Homo sapiens: one gene and its partners. The protein of the gene in region 4 purifies or fractionates together with the protein of the main gene of each other region. This does not show direct contact. Each region holds a gene or a part of one and is shown on either strand. Other genes may lie near its edges.

What was found.
Region 1: the proteins of SCARA3 (region 4) and HEATR3 purify together in Homo sapiens (affinity purification with mass spectrometry; 4 studies listed by BioGRID and IntAct, with this or other methods). This does not show direct contact.
Region 2: the proteins of SCARA3 (region 4) and GRAMD1C purify together in Homo sapiens (affinity purification with mass spectrometry; 3 studies listed by BioGRID and IntAct, with this or other methods). This does not show direct contact.
Region 3: the proteins of SCARA3 (region 4) and IKBIP purify together in Homo sapiens (affinity purification with mass spectrometry; 2 studies listed by BioGRID and IntAct, with this or other methods). This does not show direct contact.
Region 5: the proteins of SCARA3 (region 4) and TNPO3 purify together in Homo sapiens (affinity purification with mass spectrometry; 4 studies listed by BioGRID and IntAct, with this or other methods). This does not show direct contact.
Region 6: the proteins of SCARA3 (region 4) and PBXIP1 purify together in Homo sapiens (affinity purification with mass spectrometry; 3 studies listed by BioGRID and IntAct, with this or other methods). This does not show direct contact.
Region 7: the proteins of SCARA3 (region 4) and COCH purify together in Homo sapiens (affinity purification with mass spectrometry; 3 studies listed by BioGRID and IntAct, with this or other methods). This does not show direct contact.

The regions. Positions count from the first base shown.
Region 1 is NC_000016.10:50,072,009-50,076,194, forward strand, and holds part of HEATR3 (HEAT repeat-containing protein 3), read left to right. Parts: intron 1-596; coding exon 597-706; intron 707-3,562; coding exon 3,563-3,703; intron 3,704-4,186. UniProt on the Homo sapiens protein: Plays a role in ribosome biogenesis and in nuclear import of the 60S ribosomal protein L5/large ribosomal subunit protein uL18 (RPL5). Required for proper erythrocyte maturation.
Region 2 is NC_000003.12:113,939,378-113,943,563, reverse strand, and holds part of GRAMD1C (protein Aster-C), read right to left. Parts: intron 3,679-4,186; coding exon 3,568-3,678; intron 3,325-3,567; coding exon 3,219-3,324; intron 1-3,218. UniProt on the Homo sapiens protein: Cholesterol transporter that mediates non-vesicular transport of cholesterol from the plasma membrane (PM) to the endoplasmic reticulum (ER).
Region 3 is NC_000012.12:98,637,712-98,641,897, reverse strand, and holds part of IKBIP (inhibitor of nuclear factor kappa-B kinase-interacting protein), read left to right. Parts: intron 1-4,186. UniProt on the Homo sapiens protein: Target of p53/TP53 with pro-apoptotic function.
Region 4 is NC_000008.11:27,636,717-27,640,902, forward strand, and holds part of SCARA3 (scavenger receptor class A member 3), read left to right. Parts: intron 1-4,186. UniProt on the Homo sapiens protein: Seems to protect cells by scavenging oxidative molecules or harmful products of oxidation.
Region 5 is NC_000007.14:128,999,072-129,003,257, reverse strand, and holds part of TNPO3 (transportin-3), read left to right. Parts: intron 1-2,023; coding exon 2,024-2,199; intron 2,200-2,690; coding exon 2,691-2,829; intron 2,830-3,967; exon of another isoform or gene 3,968-4,035; intron 4,036-4,186. UniProt on the Homo sapiens protein: Importin, which transports target proteins into the nucleus. Specifically mediates the nuclear import of splicing factor serine/arginine (SR) proteins, such as RBM4, SFRS1 and SFRS2, by recognizing phosphorylated SR domains.
Region 6 is NC_000001.11:154,943,572-154,946,777, reverse strand, and holds the end of PBXIP1 (pre-B-cell leukemia transcription factor-interacting protein 1), read left to right. Parts: coding exon 1-1,206; intron 1,207-1,660; coding exon 1,661-1,754; 3' UTR 1,755-2,698; downstream 2,699-3,206. UniProt on the Homo sapiens protein: Regulator of pre-B-cell leukemia transcription factors (BPXs) function. Inhibits the binding of PBX1-HOX complex to DNA and blocks the transcriptional activity of E2A-PBX1.
Region 7 is NC_000014.9:30,884,408-30,888,373, forward strand, and holds part of COCH (cochlin isoform b precursor), read left to right. Parts: intron 1-102; exon of another isoform or gene 103-145; coding exon 146-249; exon of another isoform or gene 250-267; intron 268-577; coding exon of another isoform or gene 578-634; intron 635-986; coding exon 987-1,213; exon of another isoform or gene 1,214-1,388; coding exon 1,389-1,905; exon of another isoform or gene 1,906-1,919; intron 1,920-3,966. UniProt on the Homo sapiens protein: Plays a role in the control of cell shape and motility in the trabecular meshwork.

The DNA of each region.
Region 1 (4,186 bases), on a different chromosome or scaffold from region 4:
CTCTAAAAGGCTTGAATAAAATATAATTTTATTTTCCTTTAAATGTGTGTTTTTGTTAATGTTCTAAAATATAGTAGGTTAAAAAATAAAAAATAAATTTGTGTTTTTGTGTGATAAATATAGAGGCCTTTTATCCTCCTTTAACTTGTTATCATTGTGGTATGGAGGAAAGAAAAAACAGTAGCCTGGACCCAGGGAACCTAGGTACTGGGCCTGGCTCTACCACTAACAAAATGTGTGCTCTTTGATGGGCCACTTTACCACTTGGGGCCTGGGTCTTCACATTTATAAAATGGGGAGTTGAATTAAACGATTTACAAGATCTCTTCCAGCTCTAACCTTCTATAAGGAAACTGGCATCATGGCAAAGAGATTGATGAAAAGGTCCCATTGTGATAGAAATAAAATATAGATAGCCAGTTCTCATGTACAGTGAATGTGAATGGGTGTTAGTTCCTTCATCGATAAAAATGGTGGGTGTTTGATTCCAACTCCTTGGTTTATAAAGCCTCGTTTGTTTTTTTATGGATTGCTATGGTTGATTTCCTACTGTTAAAATGTGAATAGTAAAACTTTTTTTTCCCCCTTCAATTTAGTGAATGCAGTAGTAGAGCAGTGTCTATATTCAACAAAGAAGGGTGTTTGGAGATTGTGTTAAAGTATTTAAGTAGGTTTCCTACCAATGTTGACCTGGCTATTTCAGTAGGTAAGTGAAGAAAAGGTGATGACTTATTAAGAATGTGTAGCCTTATTCAAAAATTTTTATGCAGCTTTGGCGTGTTTATTCCACTGGAGTGATTTTTTGTTTCGTTGTATGTGAATGTGTAGCTCAGCACCTGTTTTTTCTGGGTCTTAAATCTGTGATTAATATTAATTCTTTACCTACTCATTCAGTTTTTCTGCTTTTGACTCTGAAAGGGAGAAAGGTAATTATGTGAGGATATGTGGTTTCTAGCCTGTTTCCATTCTTAGCAGCCTTTATTAATTCTTGAAGTTTTCATCTCCATTTACTAAGAAACAGTAACGCACAACTACCAGGCCTTTAAGCCAGTTAATTGGAATCTAAACTTATTTAAATGTATTGTGCTACTATCTCATACGTCCAGCAGAAAACTGACGGCCTGAGTTTTGTTGAGAGAAAAAGAGGAAAAGAAATGATTGAAATTCCACTTAGGCCTTCATGCCTTCCATGAGACAGGGAAGGCAAAGTCCAGCAACTTCAGTGGCTTTGGCTGCCTCGCCTTCTCTTTATTGGGCTGGGGAACCACTGGGGACCCTCAGCTCAGTGGCAGGAGGCAGAAGTCAGAGCATAGGCAACTCAGCAGAATTCTGGGTGGGAGTGGAGAAACAATTGAGGGAGAGCATTTCTTTTCTACCGATCATTACTGCGGGCATCCAGCTGTCCCTTTGTGGAACTGCATTTCTCCTGGGGAGGAAGAAGTGTATTCCCCTGACTGCTGTTTTTCTTGACTCTAATGGATATTTTTAAGAGAACAGAATTGAGGGAAAATAGTAGAATAAATACTACTGAGAAAATTTTAAAAATCATTTCTCTAAATGGAATCTTGGTGGGGCTGGAGAGTTGTGAGTAAATGGGGATTTTAAAAACGATTCAGCCATTTTTAGGAAATTGATAGGTGACTTAATCTCAGAGGACAGTTTTTGTTACAATAAGAGAACTTCAGGAAAGTTAGTTCATATCTTTTACAAGAAAAATCACTTCTATTTTTGTGCCTTTAGTCTTATAGATTTATTTCTGTTTTTAGTTTTTCTTCCCCTTAATGAGCGTTTTTGAAATGGATTAGAATAGTCATTTTGCATTGTATAATAGTGTTTTCCTTCTCCATGTAGCTAGATTAATGATTTTTTAAAATACATTATTACTTTTGCTTCTAAAGTCAAGCAATGCTTACATATAGTAAAATGAACTTATAAGATTCCATCCCATGTATTCATATAACTTTTTTTGAACCTGTATGGTAGCAGTCATGGCTGTTGGCTAAAGTAAATTTAATTAGTTTCTTAATGACAAAGATATTACATTTGGATATATGTACAGAAATGCATATATGTGGATTTCCATATAAATGTATCATCAACCACAGCAGTAGCATGCATTTTGAGTAATTTTGATGGGCATGATTTAATATTTTACACATCTCTTAATTTGCTCATACTTTTATATAAACTACTTTTTTTCTTAAAGAGCTATTGCTCTGCCAGAAATAACCCTAACTTTGAAGGTCATGATAAATTTAAAGGAAGCCAGACGTCCCAAAACCTAAGGCTGTTTGCTACTGGTCCTTGATAAGTACATAAATTGAGGGTAAAATTTTTTTTTTTTTTTTGAGATGGAGTCTCAGCTCTGTCACCCAGGCTGGAGTGCAGTGGCGCAATCTCGACTTACTACAACCTCCGCCTCCCGGGTTCAAGCTATCCTCTTGCCTCAGCCTCCCAAGTAGCTGGGATTACAGGCGTGCATCACCATGCCTAGCTAATTTTTGTGTTTTCAGTAGAGATGGGGTTTTGCCATGCTGGCCAGGCTGGTCTGCAACTCCTGACCTCAAGTGATCCTCCTGCCTCAGCCTCCCAAAGTGCTGGGATTACGGGCATGAGCCACCGCACCCGGCCTGAGGATAAACTTTTATAAACATTTATAGTAACGACATTGCCGCATTTAAGAGTCTTTTTAGGCTGGGCGTGGTAGCTCACACCTGTAATCCCAGCACTTTGGGAGGCTGAGGCGGGCGGATCACAAGGTCAGGAGATCGAGACCATCCTGGCTGACAAGGTGAAGCCCCATCTCTACTAAAAATACAACAAATTAGCCAAGCATGGTGGCGGGTGCCTGTAGTCCCAGCTACTCGGGAGCCTGAGGCAGGAGAATGGTGTGAACCCAGGAGGCGGAGCTTGCAGTGAGCCAAGATTGTGCCACTGCACTCTAGCCTGGGCGACAGAGCGAGACTCCATCTCAAAAAAAAAATAAAAGAGTCTTTTTAATTGTATTTTGTAAAAAGTGTAGATCTGGCTGGGCATGGTGGCTCATGCCTGTAATCCCAGCACTTTGAAGGGCCGAAACGGACAGATCACTTGAGACCAGGAGTTCCAGACCAGCCTGGCTTTCATGGTGAAACCCTGTCTCTACTAAAAATATAGAAATTAGCCAGGCATCATGGCGCATACCTTTAATTCCAGTTACCTGAGAGACTGAGGCACAGGAATCGTTTGAACCTGGGAGGCAGAGGTTGTAGTGAGCTGAGATGCGCCACTGCATTCCAGCCTGGGTGACAGAGCAAGACTGTCTCAAAAAAAAAAAAAAAAAGTATAGATCTGTACAGGATTAGAAATTTAAAAAGAAAAGAAACATGATCTTTTCCAGCACTGATAGTTTGGGAAGCCTCATTTGCGCATATCACCCTGAGATAAAGCATATATATTTTGCAAAACCTACATGTGTCTAATGAAGTGGTAATGATACAATGTTTTATTGATGAGTTATACTGGTGTAAATTATCCAAAGCAGAATTCATTTGTTTCTAAATACTTATTTTTTGCCTCGTAGCATATTGTTTGCAGACAGTGACTGAGGATAACCCAGAGCTGCTGAAGTCTTTCAGTGCTACAGCATTGAACATGCTGGAATCAGCACTGCTTTCTCCTGTCAGTTCCATGGAATCTCTTCTATTGAAGACATTGGTAGCAGGTAAAATTTAGCCTTACGGCATAGTATATTGTTTCAGTAGCTTTTGGTATGGATGTGGTGGGGGCAAAATTTAGTCATTCATTTCAACACATTAGGTCTTCTGTGCTTTTATCTGTTCTGAAAATTTTAATATCTGAGAAGAGACCCTTACTTCAAGCAGTTGTCTATAGTTGTAAATCCTTGTAGAATAGATTTGTTTCGAATTTAACAAACTACTGTTAACCTGATAAAGAGATGCTGTTGTCAGGATCCCCACTTATTTATGAACCAGTGATTTCAGAAATTGACCACTTAGTTTTCCATAAGTTTTTTTTTTTTTAACCACCAACTCTTTTCTCTGCAGAATGTCTGAATACAGAAGTAAGAAATTATCTGAAGGTCTGTTTAGTATGTACTTTATTTAGTTTATGTATCTATTTTCTTCTTGCCCTTTGTCTTGCAGAGATAATTTATGTTGAGAGATTTTTTTTTTACTTTTTTACT
Region 2 (4,186 bases), on a different chromosome or scaffold from region 4:
GACCACGTATTGTATTATTCCATGTATATAACATGTCCAGAATAGGCACACCCATAGTAATGGAAATTAGATTAGTGGGTGCCAGGGGTCAGGGGGAGTGAGGGATGGGAATTAACTACTAATGTGTACAGATTTTCTTGTGGGGTTATGAAAATGCTCTGGAATTAGATAGTGATGATGGTTGCACAACCTTGTGAATAAAAACTTTTATTGTATGTAAATTACATCACAAAAAGATTTTTTTATGGTTTTAAAGAAAGCAAGATTAGATACATTAGATACATTTCAAGAAAGAAGTGTTTAGCTCTGTCAAATGCTGACACTGTAGGATGAAGACTGAAAAAAGGTACATTCTTTTTACAAGCCAGATGTCACTGGGGACCTTGGCTCAAGCAATATTAGTTGGGGAAACCATGCGGGAAGAACATCAGGCAGGAGTGAGCTGAAGAGTGAATGAGTGGAATAAATACACACATCCAACTTTGCTCCCTCAAACTCTACTAATAAAGAGATTTTTTAGAAGGCATAAAGCTATAAGGGCAAGGAAAATGGAAAAGGAGACAACAGTAATGCAACTTTGGAAACTGGAAAGCAGATGGATGACTCAGCAGGCCTGGAAAAGCTGAATTCTAAAGTAAAAGTAATGCTGAGAACCAACAAAATTAACCCTAAAGAATCCTCAAAAGGCTCAGGTGTTAATGACCAGGAAGCTCTGGAAGTGAGAATAAAGAGGAAGAGCCAAAGGAAGGATTGCATGAAACTTTCGGCATCTGACCTTTCCTACTACCTAGGCAGAAGTCTGGAATTTTATTTTCCGTGCAGGATAAAACAGAGGGTCTCTGGCTGCCTGGCTTGAGGGACACCAAGGCATTGTTAAGGATAGCAGTACATACCAGAAACAAGGGTAATACAGGAAAATGTATGTACTGAATCCTGGGACCATCCTTTCTGCCTTTCCTTCCCCTATCCCTCTTCCGCTCAGCTCCTAAAACGCTGCAGCCAGCCCTAAATCCACCAGGTTGGAGACTGGAGGAGTCTTCTCTGTGGACACTGACCCAAAGGTGCTGATAACCAGGATTTCTCAGCCAAGAGCCCAGCCAGATCTACAGAGAAGTTTGGGGTACACCAGCCCAATCCATATGTAAAGAGCTTCAGATCCACACAAGAAGATAAGCAAGGGCTACCAAACACTAAAGAAATTCTCTAACCTTAAAGATAGAAATTAAAACGAGGGTGAAGATCTTGATGCAAAATGAGTATGCCAGAAGAAGATTTAAAAAATGTTAACTATCAGTAATATCTTCAGAGAGATAAAGATATGGTAGCCATTAAAAAAAAAAAAAAAATTGCAGCTGGGAGCAGTGGCTCATGCCTGCAATCCCAACACTTTGGGAGGCCAAGGCAGGTAGATCTGCTGAGCCCAGGAGTTTGAGACCAGCCTGGGCAACATGGCAAAACCTTGTCTCTACAAAAACTGCAAAAATTAGCTGGGCATGGTGGCTCACACCTGAAGTTCCAGCTACGGGAGGGTGAGGTGGGAGGTTTGCTTGAGCCCAGGAGGTCAAGGCTGCAGTGAGCCGTGTTCATGCCACTGCACTCCAGTTGGGTGACAGAGTAAGACTCTTGTCTCAAAAAAAAAAAAGATGGCCGGGCACGGTGGCTCATGCCTTTAATCCCAACACTTTGGGAGGCCGAGGTGAGAGGATCACCTGAGGTCGAGAGCTCAAGACCAGCCTGGCCAACATGGCGAAACCCTGTCTCTACTAAAAATACAAAAATTAACCAGGCATGGTGGCACGCGCCTGTAATCCCAGCTACTCAGGAGGCTGAGGCAGGAGAATCACTTGAACCTGGGAGGCAGAGGTTGTGGTGAGCTGAGATTGTGCCACTGCACTCCAGACTGGGTGACAGAGTGAGATTCCATCTCAAAAAAAAAAAAAAAATTGCAACACCACAAAGAAAAGAAATCATTCAGAAAAATGATAGCTCTTTGAAACTGAAAATTTGTTAGCGAAAACTGAAAAACTCAATGGAAGAATTTGAAGATAAAATTGATAAAATATCCCAGAAACAGACCAAAAAGACTAAGAGATGGAAAGAAAAGGTAAGAATATTACATAACCCATCCAACAGAAGGCTGACATCTGAATAACAGGAGTTGTAGAAGGTCAGGAGAGAGAAAATGAGGGAAGGAAATAATCAACTATATGACTCAAGAAAAATTCCAGAATTATAGGCATGAGTTTCCAGATTAAAGAATCAAGAGTGATAATAGCCTCAGAATTCTCAATAGCAATACTGGAACCAAAAGATAATGGAGCAATGCCTTCAAAGTTCTCATCAAACCATTTATAAGCAAGAGAAAAAGTAGAATGAAAAATTTTCAGTTAGGTGAACTCTTAAAATATTTACCTCCAAATTCTCTTCTCAGGAAGCTACTGTTGGATGTGCTCCATTAAAAGGAGGAAGTAAACTAAGAAAGGAAAACACAGGATATAGGAAACAGAAGACACACACAGACAATAGGAACCCCAGAATGATAGCTGTGCACCCGGCATAGAGGGCCACTGGACCTGACTGGAGCCATCAGAAGACCTCATCAATGGAGTACCTACGTGAATAAAGATTCTGAGAGATTTATAAACAGAAAATTAGGGGATTAAATGTCTGCAAATATTAAATGTCTGTAAAGATAATTGGCAATAGTGGTAAAAATACTAGTAAGATAATTATGGTACATTTATACAGTTGAATCTTATGCAGCTGTTAAGGGGGTTTGCTTTATATACTGAGATGGAAGTATCTCCAAGATATATGGTTAATAGATAAAAGTAAAATAATGGACAGTGTATGTAATAGCTACCATTCCTGTAAAAAGAGCTTAATATTATGCATCGAATTTTATTTAGAAAGATCAATAAAAATGAAGTAGATGTATACACACTGATATGGAAACATCTTCAGAATATATTACTAATTGAAAAAAGATATACAACAGTGTATATTGTATACTCCCATTTTGTAAATAAATAAATAAACAAAAGTGACTACATAATAAATGTAATACCCTTGCATACTAGAGACTGGCAGGGGTAGTTGGCTCTAGCAGGGGGATTTTTTCAAACGATAGTAGGGTAAATATTCTCTCATACACAGAAGAGCAACTAATTCATACTGGGACAAAGATACTAAGTACTGTGATGTATCGAGTTGCCTACCTGTTCAAGCATCACTATGGAGTCTCGGAGCACTCCCTTTAAACGATGGGCCTGATCTTTATTCTTCTGAATAGTTTCTGCTCTTGACACCATATCAGAGGCTAAACTGAAAGAAAAATGCCATCTTCAAAATCTGGAGAATAGCTTCTGATCTTTTTTTCATTTCCAGAAATCATCAGAGCCCCATAAATTTGCAAACAAAACACAAAATTAAACAAACAAAAACAGGCTGTTTATGGCTACAGGATAGTTAGCAGACCACAGTCTCTGAAACTGAAATTAAGTTTTCTGCAACTGAAGAATTACTGAAATAATATGGTGAATACAGGTCAGGGGGAAAAAGACTTACTTTAAAGATTTCTCTTCTTGGAGGCGGAGACGGTAAAAGGACTGAGCAGCATGTTCTATCTTTGACAGCTTCAGAAACAGTGTCACATTCAACAAAACTAATAACAACACACTAGGCAGAGCAAATTATATGTTAATCCACACTTTTCCAGACCTAAAGCATTGCTAATGCAGAATATACATGCAAAAGCTTCAAAAATGTGTATTGTCTACACTGTTTTTCATTGTTGTTATTATTTAAATCAATTATCCCTATTTTATTATATGAAATAATTACTTGTAAGTATTAAGTGGAGGTTGAGGAAAAGATGGAAGGTAATTAGAGTGACAATACAAGTCCTTGAATAATCCGAACTCACAGGTTTGGGGTATCTGTGACATCTCTCCCCTCTGCTAGGAATACTAGTCAGTGTTGATGTGAGACCACCAGCTTTGAAATCTACCAGATAAGCTTTTAGGATCTATTTTTGGGTGCCTTTGGCTTAGGCAATTATACGCTCATAATGCTGCCTTTCAGAAAAGGAAATGAAGATCAATATGTAGCTGATCTCAGGTAGAGCATGATGTACCTCTTACTCCCAGTGGAAGTCAGAAAAAAAAAAAAATTACCATTCAGCAAA
Region 3 (4,186 bases), on a different chromosome or scaffold from region 4:
GAATTGCTTGAGGTCAGGAGTTTGAAACCAGCCTGGGAAACATAGTGAGACCGTGTCTACGAAAAATTTTTAAATATTAGCCAAGTGTGGTGGCATTCGCTGTAGTCCCAGGTACTTGGGAGGCTGAGGTGAGAAGATAGCTTGAGTCTGGGAAGTCAAAGCTGCAGTAACCCATGATTATACCACTGTGCTCCAGCCTGAGAGACAGAGCAAGACCCTGTCTCTCTAAAATGTATGTATTATATGTGTTTTTTATGGGCAGATTCTATAATTATTATTTAAATAGTTGCCTCTTAGTTGCTCTTGTGAAATCTTTTGCTGCAAAAATTGAAGCAAATGTACTTTGGTTGCTGTTTATTGCAAAATATTTATTCATAGTAAATTTTGAAATAAAAATATATCCCCATAAGACATTTGTAAACATTTTCCAGATAAAAAGCAAGTATTTGGCATCTTAAAATACTTAAAAGCTCACTAGAATTTTGACAAAGCCATTGAGATCTTTACCACTAAAACACGTAATTCAGCATCTAAAAGTCGGTCTATCAAATCTTTATTAAATGCTTTCCGTACTGACACGGCCCTGGTGGTTAAAATACAAGTGCATATGTGTGCCTGTCTGTGTACTCTTAAATACTGCTTACTCTCACTCTTCATCTGATTAAGTTGGAGGGAAAAAATCTGAACCCTTCCACTGCCCAAGAAGGATTTCAAGGAATCACACTATATCATTGTCTTCAGACCATTTCCTATGTGGAAAGAAAAGAGAAATAATACATAAGAAACTTAAAAGTGTGTTGCTTTAATATCTTCTCTCTGCTAAATAAAGGCCTGATAGGCCAGGTGTGGTGGCTCCCACCTGTAATCCCAGCACTTTGGGAGGCCGAGTTGGGCGGATCTTGAGCTCAGGAGTTCAAGACCAGCCTGGGCAACATGGTAAAACCCTGTCTCTACAAAAAATACAAAAAATTAGCCAGGCATGGTGGCGCATGCCTGTAGTCCCAGCTACTTGGGGGGTTGAGGTTGGAGGATTGCTTGAGCCCCGGAATTTGAGGTTTCAGTGAGCTTTGATTGCACCACAGCACTCAGCCTGGGTGACAAAGTGAGACCCTGCAAAAAAAAAAAGGCCTGATATATCCTATGTCATCTTGACAATAAACACTGGAGATAAGTTGCCCAAACCCATATGGCTTGAGTGTCAGTTTGCATAGCTCTTTTCTAAACTCTTATAGAAATTTTTCAGGTAAGAATTGAGGTGATTCTACTTTCAGAAAGTTAAAAAGTTGTTAAATTACTAAACAAGACACAAAACCTGTCACTCATGCTTATTTAATTACATAGAAATTTAATCAGCTGGAATTTCCATTGTGAAAATTTTGTTTCTTATGGAAACTTCAATAGATTTTTTAATTGCTTTTTTGTTTTGTTTTGTTTTGTTTTGTTTTGTTTTGTTTTGAGAGATGGAGTTTTGCTCTTGTTGCCCAGGCTGGAGTGCAGTGGCGCAATCTCAGCTCACCGCAACCTCCACCTCCACCTCCCAGGTTCAAGCAATTCTCCTGCCTCAGCCTCCCGAGTAGCTGGGATTACAGGTGTGCGCCACCACGCCCAGCTAATTTTGTATTTTTAGTAGAGACAGGGTTTCTCCATTGGTCAAGCTGGTGTCAAACTCCCAACCTCAGGTGATCTGTCCACCTCAGCCTCCCAAAGTGCTAGGATTACAGGCGTGAGCCACCGTGCCTGGCCTAAATTGCCTTTATAAAAGTTTTTTATAGTATCTGTTATAATTATGTACAAAAAGTCAAAAGCTCTTTAAGCAAGTTGTATAACTCTGGTTTTTGTTTTAATTATCCAATATAATTTTCTCTATAAATCATACTGTAAAACCTTGGCTAACTCCATTTCCAGCTTTTTTCTTTGTGTTAGTAGAGTTTTATCTAAAAGACAAGGGTATAATTTAAATGTCCTGCTTCTTAAAAATGGAATATGGTCAAGGTTTTCTTGAAAACTAGGTATTGTGCTAAAACTGAGGCTATAGATGGTATGAAACATAGGGCTAAATGGGTACTGACCCTAATAGTGGCCCTGGAACTTCTTTCCTTGCAGAAGGTCCGTAACAGCTTCCTTTGGTTATTTGCCTCTTTTTCATTATTAAGCTGAAATAGAGCCAGAGGAAATCCTGAATTTGTAAGTCCTCAGTCAGCTGTCTGCCACCATTTAACGTTCCTAAAGGAGCTATTCAGAGGCAACACACACCATTAATTACCACCATGCACTGTAGGAAAATGTAAACCATTCATTATCACAGGACCCTAGATAGATCTGTATGAGGTCTCTATAGACTGCAATGGCTCATGAAGGAGTCAGGAAGATTCTTTTTGTAAGGCCTACGCTAAAAGTAGCCTGGGTCCCTTTCTCCTGTATCTCACTCTTCCACAAGGCCATATGATATGATAGTGAGAAGAGGCCCAAAAACGAGAGTTATTTTTATTTAGTGATTTATAAGTGGTCTAATCCATCTATTCCATCCTTCATTTGCCATAAACACAACCCAGTTTATACTTAGTGTTCAAAGGGGGACAGGCCTGGGGCTTCTATCAAGTGCAAGTGGTCGGGAACCCTGCTTCCCTTATGCAATCATAGGCATGTAGGAAGGATGGAAGAGTAGCTGCACAAAGTAGTCCAAAAGAAAGATAGCTGGTCTTGTTGATGGGCACCTGTAATCCCAGCTAGCTGGGAGGCTGAGGCAGAAGAATCACTTGAACCCAGGAGGCGGAAGTTGCAGTGAGCCGAGATCACACCACTGCACTTCAGCCTGGACAACAGAGTGAGACTCCATCTCCAAAAAGAGAAAAAAAAGGGGCCACAGTACTTAAAGGAAATAGCTGATGTGCTATGGCTCTATTGTTCCAGGAGCTTTTATAAATAGCAATAACTAATGTCTACAATAACTCGGCCAGGCATGGTGGCTCACACTTATAATCCCAGCATTTTAGGAGGCCAAGGCGAGAGGATCGCTTGAGCCCAGGGAGTTTGACCTGCAGTGAACTATGATTGTGTCACTGTAGACCTCTTCCTCTTCAGCTGCCTCAAAAAACGAACAAACAAACAAAATAGCCAGATCTCCTCTCTACAGAATTTTTTTTTTTAATTAGCCAGTGGTGGTAATGTACCTGTGGTCCTAGCTACTTGAGAGGCTGAGGTGGGAGAATCACTTGAGCCCAGGAGTTCAAGGCTGCAGTAAGCTATGATCAGGCTACTGTACTCCAGCCTGGGTAACAGAATGAGACCTTGTCGAAAAACAAACTACAACCCTATGAAGTATTGGCTGGGTGCTCTGGCTCACACCTATAATCCCAACAGTTTGGGAGGCCAAGGCAGGAGGATCACTTGAGCCCAGGAGTTCAAGACAAGACTGGGCAACATAGGAAGACCCCCATCTCTATAAAAAATTAGCCAGGCATTATGGCACACGCCTGTGTTCCCAGCTACTCAGGAGGCTGAGGGGGTAGGATGGATTGGGCCTGGGAGGCTACAGTGAGCCATGATCACACCACTGCACTCCAGCCTGGGAAATAGAGTGAGATCTTGTCTTTAAAAAATAAGATTAAAATAAGGTATTATCCCCACTTCACAGATGAGGAAACATCAAAGTTATTTAACTTGCCCAAAGTGGTTATACAGCTTAGTAAATGGCAGAGCTAAGGCAGTCCAGTCACCCACCTAATCAGTATGATTCGTTGCCTCCATTCGATATTAATCCCCAACAAAAGGCCAAGATCCTAGAAATAGAAATCCCCAAGTCCAGAATTACTTATAGTTCTTTTCTTCCTTCTACTTGAAGGTATACCCTTTAGCAGACCCTAATTGCTTGTTTTTCACTCTCATCTAAATGGGAAGACTGGGAACTGCTCTCACTAGAATATGCCCCTGACTCATAAAAAGGAAATAAAGGACCTTATACCCTAACATGGATGCCAGTTTGAAAGCTTAGTTTTTCAGATCTGAAGCAGCTTTCTCAGCATATTTTCTTGACTTCTAGAAAATCAGTCATCTAGGCTGGGTGCGGTGGCTCACGCCTGTAATCACTTGAACCTGGGAGGTGGAGGTTGCAGTTAGCCAAGATCATGCCACTGCACTCCAGCCTAGGCAGCAGAGCGAGACCCTGTCTCAAAAAAAGGAAAGAAAG
Region 4 (4,186 bases):
CAGCCTCCGGAAACCCCTCAGTGATCTCCCATAACATCACAGGGGCTGCATGGGCTGCGGGGCTGGGGGCTGACTTCCAGCACTTCCCTCCCTGGCAGCCGGGAAGAGCCGCCCCTCTACCAGAGATGGAAATGGCAGGGCAGACAGCAAATAATTGGCTTCCGGGATCTGTGGGGTGTAAAGAACCAGGATTTTTCTCACTCGAGTGGAAAAAGTAAAGTGCCCGGCAGAGTAGGGCAGGCAGCCCCTTCCAGAGAACCCTTCCCGTGCTCCTCCAGAGGCCACACCAAACTTCGAATTACATCTGTTGGCAAAGGATCATGCCCTGCTCAAAACAAACACGTGATGTGATGTGATGTTGTATGGAGAACCGGTGATGGTGGGGAAGGTGATCAAGAAAACACGCTAGTCGGGCTGCCCAGCCCACCGGTGGCCGAGTGCCAGGGCCCACTCTGCCAGCCAAGCCATTTCCACCCGAGGCCCCTCCTGCCCCACGGCCAGCTGACAGGGCCTCCCAGGCCGCTGCCTCTTTTGATCCAAGCTGGCACCTGGCCCCTCTCACACGCAGCCCTAAGGGGACACTCAGGTGCCACCAGCCCCTTGGTGATAGGCCCACCTTGGAGCTTCCCACTGGCTTGTCCAAGCCATTAGCAGCCACCTGTGGGGTTGTTTCCACACTTCCAGTAAGAGTGACCCACCCCCAAGATGCCCAAGACACAGGCTGGTGCACCGTGAAGACTGATTTGAGAGTCGAAGACATGGGCTTTAGTCCCGGCCCCATCATCTGCCCTCTTCGGCCCCGTTGTCCTCCTGGGTGGTCCCTGAGGCCCAAGAGCTCTGCGCCTGAGCACCACTTGGGGAGCGGAAGTGACTCAGTGGTGAGGTGGCTGGAAGCGGGCCCACCTTGTGGCCTCTTTGCCCCGAGAGACTTCTGCTTGACTGCGGTGGCCAGGGCAGGGGGCAGCCCTCTGTTCCTCAGGCGTGGGAGAAACAACCCCTCCTTCCAGAATCAGAGAGCAGTGCCCACTTCATTTAGGCAAAGGGTGGAAGTGGGGAGAGGAGGGGCTGTGAAAACACAGCGATGCAATCCCAGGAGGAATCCGCCCTGCACCGCTCCTCTGGCCGAGAGGAGAGGATCTCCACTCATGAGCGGCCAGGCTGGGGGCCCCAGAAAGCCTGACCTCATTCCCCAGGGGCACGGGAAGGAGCCAGGGCTAGAAGAAAAGGAGCTGATGTGGTGAAGGTGAAAAGAGCCACCAGACAGCCTAACTGAGGGGTCCAGGGAGCCCAGCGGCTCAGATGTTGGAGTTCGGCTCCAAATCCTCAAACATCGGCCCCACTCCCACCCCCAGCCAAAACAGTCACTTTGCCCTCTAGCTGGGGGTAAGCCTAATAACTGAAGACTCAGGTCCCAAGGCTCATCGAGAGCGAGGAAAAAGCCTTCTGTTTCTCAGTAGGCTAGGTTGATGGATAGCTTGGCAGTTTCCGTGAAGGACAGGCAGCTGTTCTGGGTGTTAGAATTGATGTACAGGGTGGCATAGCTGGGCATGGCTCTCATACATGCACTGCCCATGTTTGATCATGTATAATTTAGTGATTGTGTGTGTGTGTGTGTGTGTGTGTGTGTGTGTAGAGCACTGAGTCCCAAGGTCAGGCCCAGCCCTGTCATAGGCCAGCTTTATCACTGGGATGAAGTCCCTGGTACTCCCTGGGGTCAGTCCCCTCATCCAGGTGGACCAGATGATCCCATGGGATGGCATCAGAGTGTAAGTTTCATGACAGTGGGGTCTCTGTCTGTTTCTGGCACTTAGGGGGTGTCCACTAAGTCTGTTCAGTGTGCACATCTGTACTGTACCATGGTATCGTCAGAACCTCACGCAGGCATTCCGTAAACATGCAGAAAGATGCCTGTATTCAACAAACAGCGATGGGGCGACTGCCAGGTGCCCGGCTCTGTATGTCTATATATGTCTAAGGACTGAGGAAGCTACAAAGAGCTCAGATGCTGCCCTTTCTCTCAGGGAGCTTACTCTTTACTAGGACACATAGGATTTGTGCCCAAGTCACTCAAAAAAAGACTAACAGTGATAAGTGTCTTAAGGGAGTTCCCAGCGAGAGAGTTTGGGGGTGGGCTGGGCTCTTTTCCTGGCTTTCCTTCTTTGCTGCTGTTCTTCGAAATGCGTCCTCGGTTTCAGCCACAGACAGGCTCCTGGTTCTTGCTGGCACCCGTTCCCTGAACAATCTCTCCCAGCCTCGAAGATGTGACATGTGGGAGCTGGCAAATCTGACGGCACCAGATTTGCCTCTCTGGGCTTCACAGCTGTATTTCCATCGGTGTCCTCAGTGTCTCCAGGTGGAGACCTGCAGGCACCTTCTTCATGGTTCAGATGAGACACCTTCCCCTTCACCTGAACCCAAGCTAAAAAATGGGTTATTCTGAGTTGTTGCCCCAGCCCACACTTTTCAGTCAGCCAACATGTATGGAGTTCCTGTTTTTAGGGAGGAAGCACGCTAGTTGGAAGGCAAGCCTGGGTGCTTTCTGCCCTCCCAGCAGAAATAAGACGTGCACACCTGAGACGAGAACCGAATCATCCAGGCAGATGCCACAAAAGAACAAATGCACGGCATATACGGGAGATTGGATGGGAATCCCGGGAGAGAAAGGGAGCATTTCAAGTTGGGCAGTTCAGAAAGGCTTCAGGGAGGAGCTGAAGGGTGGGGAGGAGTTGGATGGGGTCAGTGAAGAGGGCAGGAAGGAGTGCTGGGAAAAGTTGGACAGCAGGTCCTGGGGGAAGAGTGTTTGGTGGTGGGGGAGAGAGATGGCCTGCAGTTGAGGGAGCCCTAAGCCAGAAAGGACCTGAGTGCTCCATAAAGGACACGCGGTTGTGTCTGGTTGACATTGGAGAGACCTGGGAGGGTTTGTCAGGAGAAGGCCTATTTGCCACTTGCCCCTGGAGATATTCTCTCGTGGCCTTAGCCCATGTTGAGAAACCTCTACTTTTAGAGAGTGGGAGGAAGAAAATGAGCTTGTAAAGGAGCCAAGAGGAGCAGTCCAGGACACAGGCAGAGAACCATGATGGTAATGTCATGGAAATTGAGAGGAGAAAGTTCCAAGGGGGAGGAAATGACCCACCGCGTTGACTGCTGATCAGCAGAGTTAGCTCAGGATTCATGGATCAGAGAAGGCCAGGTTGCAAGGGCCAGAGGGGCTGAGTGGATCAGAAGCAAAGGCGCAGGAGGAGCTGTGTCCTTAGAGTGGGAGGCAGGGCCCAGCTCAAAGGATTTCAAGGCAGGGATGGCCCGTGCTCATTGGGAGGGGGAGGGACAGAAGAGGCATGGGGGGACTTGGGGACAGAGCGGTGGAATTGAGGGAGACTTGCTTTGAGAAGAAAGAATCTCTTTATCGGGAGGCAAGGGAAGGAGAAAAGATGGTTACAGACATAGACTCTGCATTACGAGCAGCTGCATTTAACCTTTTTATAACACATTTATTATTTTTTTAAAAATCAAAAAATTCCAAAAAGGAAAAACATTCACTCACGTGAACTCCTGCCCTGTAGAGATAATAAATGACAAAATGTAGATGAACATTCTTCAGAAATCATTCTGTGTATGTTTGCACAGATTTTTTTCATGTAGATAAGATTACACTATCCATGTTATTTTTATTTTTATTTTATTTTACTTTGAGACATAGTCTCACTCTGTGCCCAGGCTGGAGTGCAGTGGTACCATTGTAGGTTACTGCAGCCTTGACCTCCTGGGCTCAAGGATCCTCCCAGCCTCCCAAGTAGCTGGGACTATAAGCAGGTGCCACCATGCCCAGCTAATTTTTGTATTATTTGTAGAGATGAAGTCTCGCTATGTTGCCCAGGCTGGTCTCAAGCTCCCGACCTCAAGCAATCCTCCCTCCTCAGCCTCCCGATTACTTAGCGTTTTTGTTCTTAGTGCTGGTTTTTAGTTGTTGCTTTTGTTTTTGTTTGTTTGTTTCTTTGCTTGAGACAGAGTCTTGCTCTGTTGCCCAAGCTGGAGGGTAGTGGCACTATCATGGCTCACTGCAGCCTCAACCTCTTAGGCTCAAGCAATTGTCCTACCTCAGCCTCCCAAGTAACTGGGACTACAGATGCATGCCACCATGCCCAGCTAATTTTTGTATTTTTTGTAGAGATGAGGTTTCACCCTGTTC
Region 5 (4,186 bases), on a different chromosome or scaffold from region 4:
TATGAACACTTACTATTTATTTATTTATTTTTGAGACAGAGTCTCCTCCCTCTGTCGCCCAGGCTGGAGTGCAGTGGCACAATCTCGGCTCACGGCAACCTTCGCCCTCTGGGTTCAAATGATTCTCCTGCCTCAGCCTCCTGAGTAGCTGGGACTACAGGTGTGTGCCACCACACCTGGCTAATTTTTTGTATTTTTTTTTTTTTTTTTTTTTTTTTGAGAGGGAGTCTCGCTCTGTCGCCGGGGCTGGAGTGCAGTGGCGCCATCTTGGCTCACTGCAAGCTCTGCATCCTGGGTTCATGCCATTCTCCTGCCTCAGCCTCCTCAGTAGCTGGGACTACAGGAACCTGACACCACGCCCGGCTAATTTTTTGTATTTTTAGTAGAGATGGGGTTTCACCGTGGTCTCGATCTCCTGACCTCGTGATCTACCGGCCTCAGCCTCCCAAAGTGCTGGGATTACAGGCGTGAGCCACCGCGCCCGGCCAATTTTTTGTATTTTTAGTAGAGACAGGGTTTCACTGTGTTAGCCAGGATGGTCTCGATCTCCTGACCTTGTGATCTGCCCACCTTGGCCTCCCAAAGTGCTGGGATTACAGGTGTGAGCCACCATGCCCAGCTCGAACACTGACTTTTTATAACTTGGTAATATAATGAGAATCTTTGAACCTACTATTCAATCTAAGAATACCTAATAAATAATTTGCATCTTTGTGCTCTCCCAAACCTGCTTATATACCTTTTTGTCCCACTGGAGATTTTAAATATCCTTTTAAAAAAATTATTCAAGGAAGACTAATACGCCCTTACTAAGTGTATTCAACCTCTCAACTGTACTCTCTTCACTAGAAACCCGGGAGGATTCCCTTCTTGGACCTTTTGGTCTGCTCTGATTTGCATCAGTTGTTCTTTAGATCTACTCCCTGTCATCTTGGGACTTGTCTTTACTGTGCTTTCTGGATTAGGTTAGCTGTTTCTCAAACCCCCTCAAATAACTTCTTCAGAAAAGATATAATGGAAAGTAAACTTGGAATTTTTGCATGCCTGAGAACTATTTTTATTTTGCTTTCGATCTTGATTGATGGCTCAGCTAGGTATTAAGTTGTAGGCTGAATATTATTTTCCTTCAAAATTTCAAAGGCCTTGCTCTCCTTTACTAGCATGCATCATTGTTAATGAAAAGTCAGAGAACTCTGAATTCTGCTCCTTACTATTACCTCCTCCTCTCTTCCCCTGAAATTTTACAGACCTTTGTTTAACTCTGGTATTCTGAAATTTCACAATGATGTGTTTAGGTATGTGTCTTTGATACTTGTTGAGCCCTTTCATTTTAGGTAGTACTTGAGTATCAGAAAAAGGATGGAAAAGATTTTTCACACACTAGAATAGGGTAGGGAACACATGGCTTTCCATTTGGAGGGGCTGGTGTGAACAAGAACATGGAGATTAGAAATGATACGACCATGACTTCGGGACAGAAAGGCTGATTTGCTTGACATATAAGGAAATAGAAATAAGATTGGGAAGATTGATGGATGTTGTCTCATGGAAGGCTATGACTTGACTGTTACACATTTAAAGTACATGTTCAGAAAGAGGCTATAATTGAAAGAAAGAAAGAGGCTCTAATTGTTTTCCTATTACATTTATCCATCACTATCTTCAAAGGATTGGTTCCAGGACCACCCACTACCCCTGCCCCTCTGTGCACAGTTTCCAAGAGATGCAGATGCCCAAGTCCCTTATATAAAATGGTGCAGTATTTGCATATAACCTATCCACATCTTCCCATATACTCTAAATCACCTGTAAATTACTTATAATACCTAATACAATGTAAATGCTATGTAAATAGTTGCTATAGGGTAATTTTTAAATTTGTGTTTTTCATTGTATTATTATTTACTTATATTTTGAATATTTTCTATCGATGGTTGATTGAACCCTAGGGTGTGCAGGGCCAACTGTAGATCACTCCTTAGTGATCATACTTCTTGCTTCCCTATTCCTGCTACCTCCCCAGCAACAGGATAAGACCTCGTCTAACCTACATGAAGCTGCTTCGGACTGTGTATGCTCAGCTCTCTATGCCATTGAGAATGTGGAGACTAACTTGCCATTAGCCATGCAACTTTTTCAGGGAGTGCTGACATTGGAGACTGCCTATCATATGGCCGTGGCACGTGAAGATTTAGACAAGTGAGTAATTGTTTAAGTCTGGAGCCCTGGGTTTACCTACAGTCTGGTCATTCTTTTAAGTCACTTTTTATTATTCGTCTGTCATTTGTGATTCTCAGTGATTCTGTAAAGTACAGATAGTGCTTCCTAAAGATGCTCTACTATGCTCTTCTGAACCTAGAGTGGCAAATTGGGTGCAGGGTTTGTAGAATTACCATAGAAAGGTAAGGCTTTAAAAGTTGGAGACAAATTTTAAAATATCAAGTGTGATTTGATGGGAGTTTTTATTCAAATGTTTTAATAATTGAGAATTTGAACTGACAAGTCACTTGCGTAGGAGTGTACGATCTAGGTAAAGGTGTCTGTCATGGGGATTGTGATACAGCATAGTAAATAATCACTAGATGTCCCTTAGACTGAGGAACCTTTTATTTATTTGATTAACTGTGCCTGTATATACTTATAATATCCAGATTTCTGACTCATTGTTCTCATTCCCCTGTCTTCTACAGAGTTCTGAATTACTGCCGTATTTTCACTGAACTATGTGAAACTTTTCTTGAAAAAATTGTTTGTACTCCAGGCCAAGGTCTTGGGGACCTTCGAACTCTGGAGCTGCTGCTTATCTGTGCAGGCCATCCTCAATATGAGGTAGTGTTTATGCTATTCAAAGGCCATTATTCTCCAAGTTGTGTGCTGCATATTATCTATATTTCATTACCTCGTGCCCAAATTTTTATTGTTGAGAAATTACAGTCTTGTTTTTAATTAATGTGATTTCATCTGTTTTGGAATTTTTTAAAAAAATTATATTTGGGTTTCTGCATTGTGTCCATTTCTGTTTTCTTACCTGGTTGGCTGGGCTGTTGTAGGCCCCTCAAGGAACTCGTTAGAAAGCAAGCCTTTCCAATGAACCCCTTGTCTAGCTTGACTTATTCTCTAGAGTGTTACAGCTAAAAAACACCAAATTCTAACTATACCTCCACAAGTCTTAACACCCCCAATTTTTCTCCAAATGATGGATGAGAATGACAAAGGGATTGAAAGGACTTAAGGGTCTCTGTCATTCAGAATCCTTGACATCCTACTTACCGAGGTTTGCTAGATTTTTTAAAATCTCATTTATTTGAGAAGTTTTACCTCTTTATAGTATAAGAAATGAGAAAGGGTCGGGGTTGGTGGCTCACACCTGTAATCCCAGCATTTTGGGAGGCCGAGGTGGGCAGATCACCTGAGGTCAGGAGTTTGAGACCAGCCTGGCCAACATGGTGAAACCCTGTCTCCACTAAAAATATAAAAATTAGTCAGGCGTGGTGGCTCACACCTGTAATATCCCAGCTACTTGGGAGGCTGAGGCAGGAGAATTGCTTGAACCTGGGAGGCAGAGGTTGTAGTGAGCTGAGATCGGGCCACTGCACTCCAGCCTGGGAGACGAGCGAAACTCCGTCTCAAAAAAAAAAAAAAAAGTGAGAAAGAAGTGCTCCCAAGTTGGGCATTGTTTTAAATAGCTCTGTTTTGGATCCTTGATGGGAAAAGGATGGTAGGGATCCTCTTACTGTGCCTTAGGCACAGTGGTCCTGTGACTCTCGGCCTGTTTTCTGTTATCACATACAAGACAACGTTTATTTGTTTTACATAATGTTACGAGGATACCTAGATTTGAATGGAACCCAAAACATTTCTGGGAGAATGTAACACCACGCAGTTATCACTCCTTTAAACAGTACCATATGGAAAAGAGGCTACGAGTAAAATCCCAGGCTTTTTCTCCCTTTCTCTCACACTCAAGGAAACAGGTGAATAAAAGTGACATGAAGCTGAATCAGTTATGTTCAGGAGTTACAGATGGTTTGCCAAGTAAGAAATGTTCTAATCTCAAACATTCAATGAAATGATTTCAGAATTTTCAGAAAAGTACTTTAAAAAAGACTTCTGGCCGGGCGCAGTGGCTCACGCCTGTCAGCACCTTGGGAGGCCGAGGTGGGCAGATCATAAGGTCAGGAGTTCA
Region 6 (3,206 bases), on a different chromosome or scaffold from region 4:
GATGCACCAGCCCAAAGGGCTAGAGGAGGAGAATGCCCAGCTCCGGGGGGCTCTGCAGCAGGGCGAAGCCTTCCAGCGGGCTCTGGAGTCAGAGCTGCAGCAGCTGCGGGCCCGGCTCCAGGGGCTGGAGGCCGACTGTGTCCGGGGCCCAGATGGGGTGTGCCTCAGTGGGGGTAGAGGCCCACAGGGTGACAAGGCCATCAGGGAGCAAGGCCCCAGGGAGCAGGAGCCAGAACTCAGCTTCCTGAAGCAGAAGGAACAGCTGGAGGCTGAGGCACAGGCATTAAGGCAAGAGTTAGAGAGGCAGCGACGGCTGCTGGGGTCTGTACAGCAGGATCTGGAGAGGAGCTTGCAGGATGCCAGCCGCGGGGACCCAGCTCATGCTGGCTTGGCTGAGCTGGGCCACAGATTGGCCCAGAAACTGCAGGGCCTGGAGAACTGGGGCCAGGACCCTGGGGTCTCTGCCAATGCCTCAAAGGCCTGGCACCAGAAGTCCCACTTCCAGAATTCTAGGGAGTGGAGTGGAAAGGAAAAGTGGTGGGATGGGCAGAGAGACCGGAAGGCTGAGCACTGGAAACATAAGAAGGAAGAATCTGGCCGGGAAAGGAAGAAGAACTGGGGAGGTCAGGAGGACAGGGAGCCAGCAGGAAGGTGGAAGGAGGGCAGGCCAAGGGTGGAGGAGTCGGGGAGCAAGAAGGAGGGCAAGCGACAGGGCCCGAAGGAACCCCCAAGGAAAAGTGGTAGCTTCCACTCCTCTGGAGAAAAGCAGAAGCAACCTCGGTGGAGGGAAGGGACTAAGGACAGCCATGACCCCCTGCCATCCTGGGCAGAGCTGTTGAGGCCCAAGTACCGGGCACCCCAGGGCTGCTCAGGTGTGGACGAGTGTGCCCGGCAGGAGGGCCTGACTTTCTTTGGCACAGAGCTAGCCCCAGTGCGGCAACAGGAGCTGGCCTCTCTGCTAAGAACATACTTGGCACGGCTGCCCTGGGCTGGGCAGCTGACCAAGGAGCTACCCCTCTCACCTGCTTTCTTTGGTGAGGATGGCATCTTCCGTCATGACCGCCTCCGCTTCCGGGATTTTGTGGATGCCCTGGAGGACAGCTTGGAGGAGGTGGCTGTGCAACAGACAGGTGATGATGATGAAGTAGATGACTTTGAGGACTTCATCTTCAGCCACTTCTTTGGAGACAAAGCACTGAAGAAGAGGTGGGCAGCTGTGGGGGAGTTGGGTCGGGTGGGACAGAGGCAGTCGGGAGGATGTGAAGAGCAAGGATCATTAGTTTGAGTATCCTTACTTTTGGTCCCCAGCTGGCTTCCCTTAGAGAAGGCATTCAGGTCCGCTTCCTTTCTTCCCTTGAGGGTAGGAAGCTGCCTGTGCCCACCCCAGAGTGGTCCTGAGCAGTCCCCTTTTGGGCAGGGGGATTCTTTCTCCTGAGTTGCCCTGCCCTACCTCTACCTGCATGGCCCAGGGGACGAGGGAGATCCCCATCTTCCTGTCTCCCCGACTGGAGCCTTTATCCTGGGAGACCAGGTTTTTCCCACATATGCTTGGTGGTGCCTGCTCAAGTCAGCTTCATTGGGAGGAGCAGGGTCCTCTCTCCTTGGGGAACCCGTTTTCATTGCATGGTATTGTCCCCTAAAGGCCTCTTCCTCCCCACAGGTCAGGGAAGAAGGACAAGCACTCACAGAGCCCAAGAGCTGCGGGGCCCAGGGAGGGGCACAGCCATAGCCACCACCACCACCACCGGGGCTGACACCCTGCCCCACAGGGAATGGCCTTGGCCTGGCCCAGCCCAAGATCCCAGCGTTATCTAACTCCTGGAGGGTGGACTCTGTCCTGGCTTGTTTGGTGTCCTCAGATATCTTTCACACAGTAGAGCAAAATCACCAGCCCTGCACTGATGTCACTTTATGTAGAAAAAGGCCTTAGCTGGACCTGCGTTGCCGTCTATGCAAATGCATGCAAATACTCCAGGCCCTGGGATGTGGGCTTGTGTTTTGTCACTGTGAAGGGGGAGATGGGAGAGGAGCCTGTTTTGGGGTGGGGTCTGGGGAAGGCAATCTGATTCTGAAGCTAAAGAGCTTTCATCCTCTTGAGTGTATGTCCCCATAGTGGGCCCCTTGACCCACATGCTGACCGGTGCCTTGGGATTTGACTAGAGTTGCTGGCTCGAGGCCCAGCACGAGGACTTACCCTGGGGTTTTGTTAGGTTTGGAAGCAGCTGTCCCTAGGGGGTGAAGTCCCCCCCCTTTTTTTTTTTACCCCTGCTTCTCCCACGGCTTCACCTCCCTATGTGAACTGTAGACTCAGATCCCAATAAAGTGCTGTTGCAGCTATGATGCTAGGTGGTTTCTAAGCACAGGGGACACCCCACACCCCCTGCCTGAATGGATGGGTCCATCCCAGGCACTGGTACTTGCCCCCTTGTTCTGTATCCCCCTTTGCCCTTGCCTTGCCCTTCCAACAAACCCTAGGCCCTTGAGAAGCTGATACTTCTCCTTTTGCTCACAGCTGCCTTGGCCCCACCCCTGGGAGATGTAGCAAATTGAGTGTGGGTTTTGGAGTCTGAGCCTCAGGCTCAAATCCAGGCCAAGTGATCTTGGGCAAGTTAATCTCTGGGAACTTTGGGTTTCTTATCCTCAAAAAAGGCGATGGAAGGGCTGGGGAAGTGATTAAATAAAAGCAACGCAAGAAAAATGCCTCTCCTGTTTTGGGCACTCAAAAGTTATTGCCTTCTTTAGGGAAGGGTGTGGAGGAGGGAAAAGAACCCAGGCCCAGAAGGAAGAGCTTCTGGGGCTGGGGAGGTGAGGGAACCACTAGGTGGCACCCTGGCTCCATTTTGCTCCAGACCTCGCCTCTCCCACTACTCACTGTCCCCAAAATCTCAGACCCTACCCCACTGACCCCAGCGCCTGCTCCACTGGCCAGCTCTCCCAGGATGACCAGACTCCCCTTGGCTATTCTCTAGGAAGTCCTTCCTGAGATCTAACCTTAGTCCCTTCGGCAATACACTGGGCTTTTTGATGACCCTGGAAATGCCCAGGAAGTACAGGAGACAGAATAATGTGGTGTGACTGCTCAGGCAGGAGGCGGGGGACTACAGGTTCTAGAAGGGGCTGTAACTGATTTCTGTATTATTTAGCAAGCGAATATGTAACTCTGTTTAAGGGCTTAAAGGTATTAGTTCATTGAATTCATGTGTGGG
Region 7 (3,966 bases), on a different chromosome or scaffold from region 4:
GCAATGCCTCAGTTGACTATGTACTATGGAATTAAGAAAGAAACTTGTGTGTTGTCTGGTTTTAAAACTGTTTTTTAAGGCATGTAATGTTGCTTATTTTACCTTTTTAATTCTCCCTGAATAACATTTTCTTTCTTCCACTCAGTGAACATCCCAAAATAGAATTTTACTTGAAAAACTTTACATCAGCCAAAGATGTTTTGTTTGCCATAAAGGAAGTAGGTTTCAGAGGGGGTAATTCCAATACAGGTAAGTAGACTTTGATACCTGGGATGTAACATAGGAGAGGGTTATCAGTGATCAGACATGTAAAACAGTATTATGCTATTTTATATGAGCAGATGTGAAATCCTCCTGGAACTGAAATCTTGGCTAGGTCTGCATTTGATCATCTGAGATAAATTTTCAATTTATAATGGAAGTATACCAAAGTGTTGATATTTCTTATTTTAAAAAATATAAAGCATGGTGATTTAGAATTCTCATACATTGGATTGACTAGATATAACATTGGAGAAGTATCTCTTTGTAATGCTAAAAAGAAGTGAAAATCAACAGACTTATCTAATGAATGCAGATGTGGCAGAAAGAATGAGTAGCACTACCGTTGACTCTGAAGAGAGACTTCTTAGAGGTACTAATCAGTCACCAAAGGGCTACATAGAGAGCACATGCATGGAAGTGGGAATCAGTTTTGTGTTTCTAACTGGCGATTGATGTGGGGTAAACAAATGTGAGGCTTCTAGGAGGTGGAGGGGGAACTAATATGGCTTGTGAAGATAAATAGGCCTGGTAGATAATTAAACTTTCCCAGCTGATGCATCTGTTACAGAACTGGGTTCTATATAATTCTTTTTTGTGTGCCCCGCCCCACTGCCAGTTCTATATATAATTCTTAAACTTTGCAGCATCAAATGCTACAGGGAAACAGAAATGTGGTTTGAGCAGTGGTAAAGGCTATTTGTTTGCTTCTTTTTCAAATTTAGGAAAAGCCTTGAAGCATACTGCTCAGAAATTCTTCACGGTAGATGCTGGAGTAAGAAAAGGGATCCCCAAAGTGGTGGTGGTATTTATTGATGGTTGGCCTTCTGATGACATCGAGGAAGCAGGCATTGTGGCCAGAGAGTTTGGTGTCAATGTATTTATAGTTTCTGTGGCCAAGCCTATCCCTGAAGAACTGGGGATGGTTCAGGATGTCACATTTGTTGACAAGGTAAAGTGGTGAGGGTTATCTTCTGTTACAGTGATGGGTATTCCATTTTGGACCTCTAAGTGCAGTGCTGACTGCCTCTTATCTAGATTAACTTGAAACATTCAGGATTTTCCAGTTTTTAAGAAGAAACAACTTTTGATCCTTTTGGATATCTTTTATGTGTCTCCCCCATTAGGCTGTCTGTCGGAATAATGGCTTCTTCTCTTACCACATGCCCAACTGGTTTGGCACCACAAAATACGTAAAGCCTCTGGTACAGAAGCTGTGCACTCATGAACAAATGATGTGCAGCAAGACCTGTTATAACTCAGTGAACATTGCCTTTCTAATTGATGGCTCCAGCAGTGTTGGAGATAGCAATTTCCGCCTCATGCTTGAATTTGTTTCCAACATAGCCAAGACTTTTGAAATCTCGGACATTGGTGCCAAGATAGCTGCTGTACAGTTTACTTATGATCAGCGCACGGAGTTCAGTTTCACTGACTATAGCACCAAAGAGAATGTCCTAGCTGTCATCAGAAACATCCGCTATATGAGTGGTGGAACAGCTACTGGTGATGCCATTTCCTTCACTGTTAGAAATGTGTTTGGCCCTATAAGGGAGAGCCCCAACAAGAACTTCCTAGTAATTGTCACAGATGGGCAGTCCTATGATGATGTCCAAGGCCCTGCAGCTGCTGCACATGATGCAGGTAAGGTCCTTGTTCTTTATAGGAGAAGGGAACAGAAAAAACGGTTCAGTGAATTTAGGAGTAAATAAAAATTTAAGCATTTATTTCATTAAACAAACACCTGTGGCTTTACCCAATATTAACTGTTAAAGCAGCCCTACTCATCTCATTCTACAGATAAGGAAGCAAACTTCCTGGAAATGACATTTCTAGTAAGTGGCAAGGCCAAGATCCAAACCCAGGCATTCTGGCTCCAGAGTGCACATTCCTAACCACTGTATTGTTGGGAGAATTGCCATGAGAACCATGTCACATTAAGGAAATATGCTTATACATATACAATTAAGGTGCTCATATTTAGCTCAAACTTGGACTATATCTCCAAATAGCCAGCTTATAACCTACCATGAATCTGCCATTCAGTAATTTATCCTAACTTTCTTGTGTATGAAACAGGTAATTGCTCTGTCACCAGGCTGGAGTGCAGTGGCATGTAGTGAGCTACAACCTCCAACTATTGGGCTCAAGCAATCCTCCTGTGTCAGCCTTCCAAATAGCTAGGACGACAGGCACATGCCACTGCCCCTGGCTAATTTTTAAATTTTTTTGGGGAGAGACGGGGGTCTCACTTTGTTGCCCAGGCTGATCTCAAACTCCTGGGCTCAAGCAATCCTCACACCTTGGCCTCCCAAAGTGCTGGGATTACAGGCATAAGCCACCACACCCAACCCTAACTTTTATTTTAGTCAAGTTTTGTCTGGCATGAGTTTCCTAAGATAAGGTCTCCCATAGACTTTACCTATCCCATCAAAATTTCCTTGGCCAGGTGCAGTGGCTCACATCTGTAATTCAGCACTTTGGGAGGCTGAGGTGGGCGGGATCACCTGAGGTCAGGAGTTCAAGACCAGCCGGGCCAACATGGTAAAACCCAGTCTCTATTAAAAATACAAAAATTAGCTGGGTGTGGTAACATACACCTGTAATCCCAGCTACTCAGGAGGCTGAGGCACGAGAATCACTTGAACCCAGGAGGCAGAGGTTGCAATGAACTGAGATCGTGCCATTGTACTCCAGCCTGGGCGACAGAGTGAGACTCTGTCTCAAAAAGAAAAAAAAAAAAAAAAAAAAACTTTTTCCCCCCCGCTTAAGATAATAAAAACACACTCTGGTGTTATAAAAGGGTATAAGAAGGGTTTCTTTCTTCCTCACCCCAGCCTTAATATTACTTTTGGCACAGGCCTCGTTCCTGAAGACATTAACGTAATGTGTTAGAGATCAAATAGGCCAACAAAAAGCTAAGATTCCCTTTCTGAGGATATAACTGAGTGACAGGAGGGAAGAATCAATGGACTTGTTTTTTTTAACACTCTTCTGTACCTCATTTTCCCTACTTAATTCCTAATGACATAACCTTTTTCCTTTCTACACATTAGTACCTCTGCCAATGTACTCACATATTTTTACAGATACTGATGAAAGATTATTCTTAAAACAGAGAACACATGCAATTTAAGTTCCACATCTAGCTTGTAAAAAGTATTTTTTATACATCAGCAACTAGCCTGTGAAGTAAAGACCTGTTTACTATCATATTCCTTAATACTTAGCTTACTGAACTTATAGTTAACAGGATTGTATTCAGGCTATAAAGTGATTAGGTTGATTAAAGTTCAGGAGGCTGGACTACACCAATATTGATTCGTGAAAATTATCCCTTAGTGATATTGAAAGTTGCAAAAGCCAGAAAATAGGGTAGGATTTTAGGGGTAGATCACAACAGTTTTTATTTATTTTCAGGGTCTTGCTCTGTCACCCAGGCTGGAGTACAGTGGTGTGATTATTTTTTTTTTTAACTGTAATTATATGCTGGGCTTGAGCTAAACAATCTGAACTAGAATGTAGAACTGAAAAGAAGTGAGGAAAACTGAGGGGGAGGAAAAAAATATTTTGACTTTTTTTTTTTTTAACCAGGGAGTGAGAGTCAGGAAAAGGAGACTGGAACAATTGGACATTGTTCCAAGTAGCTTTTACATCATCTAAACCTGCTGCATATCTTAGGTATTTACCACTCTGAGCACTGTA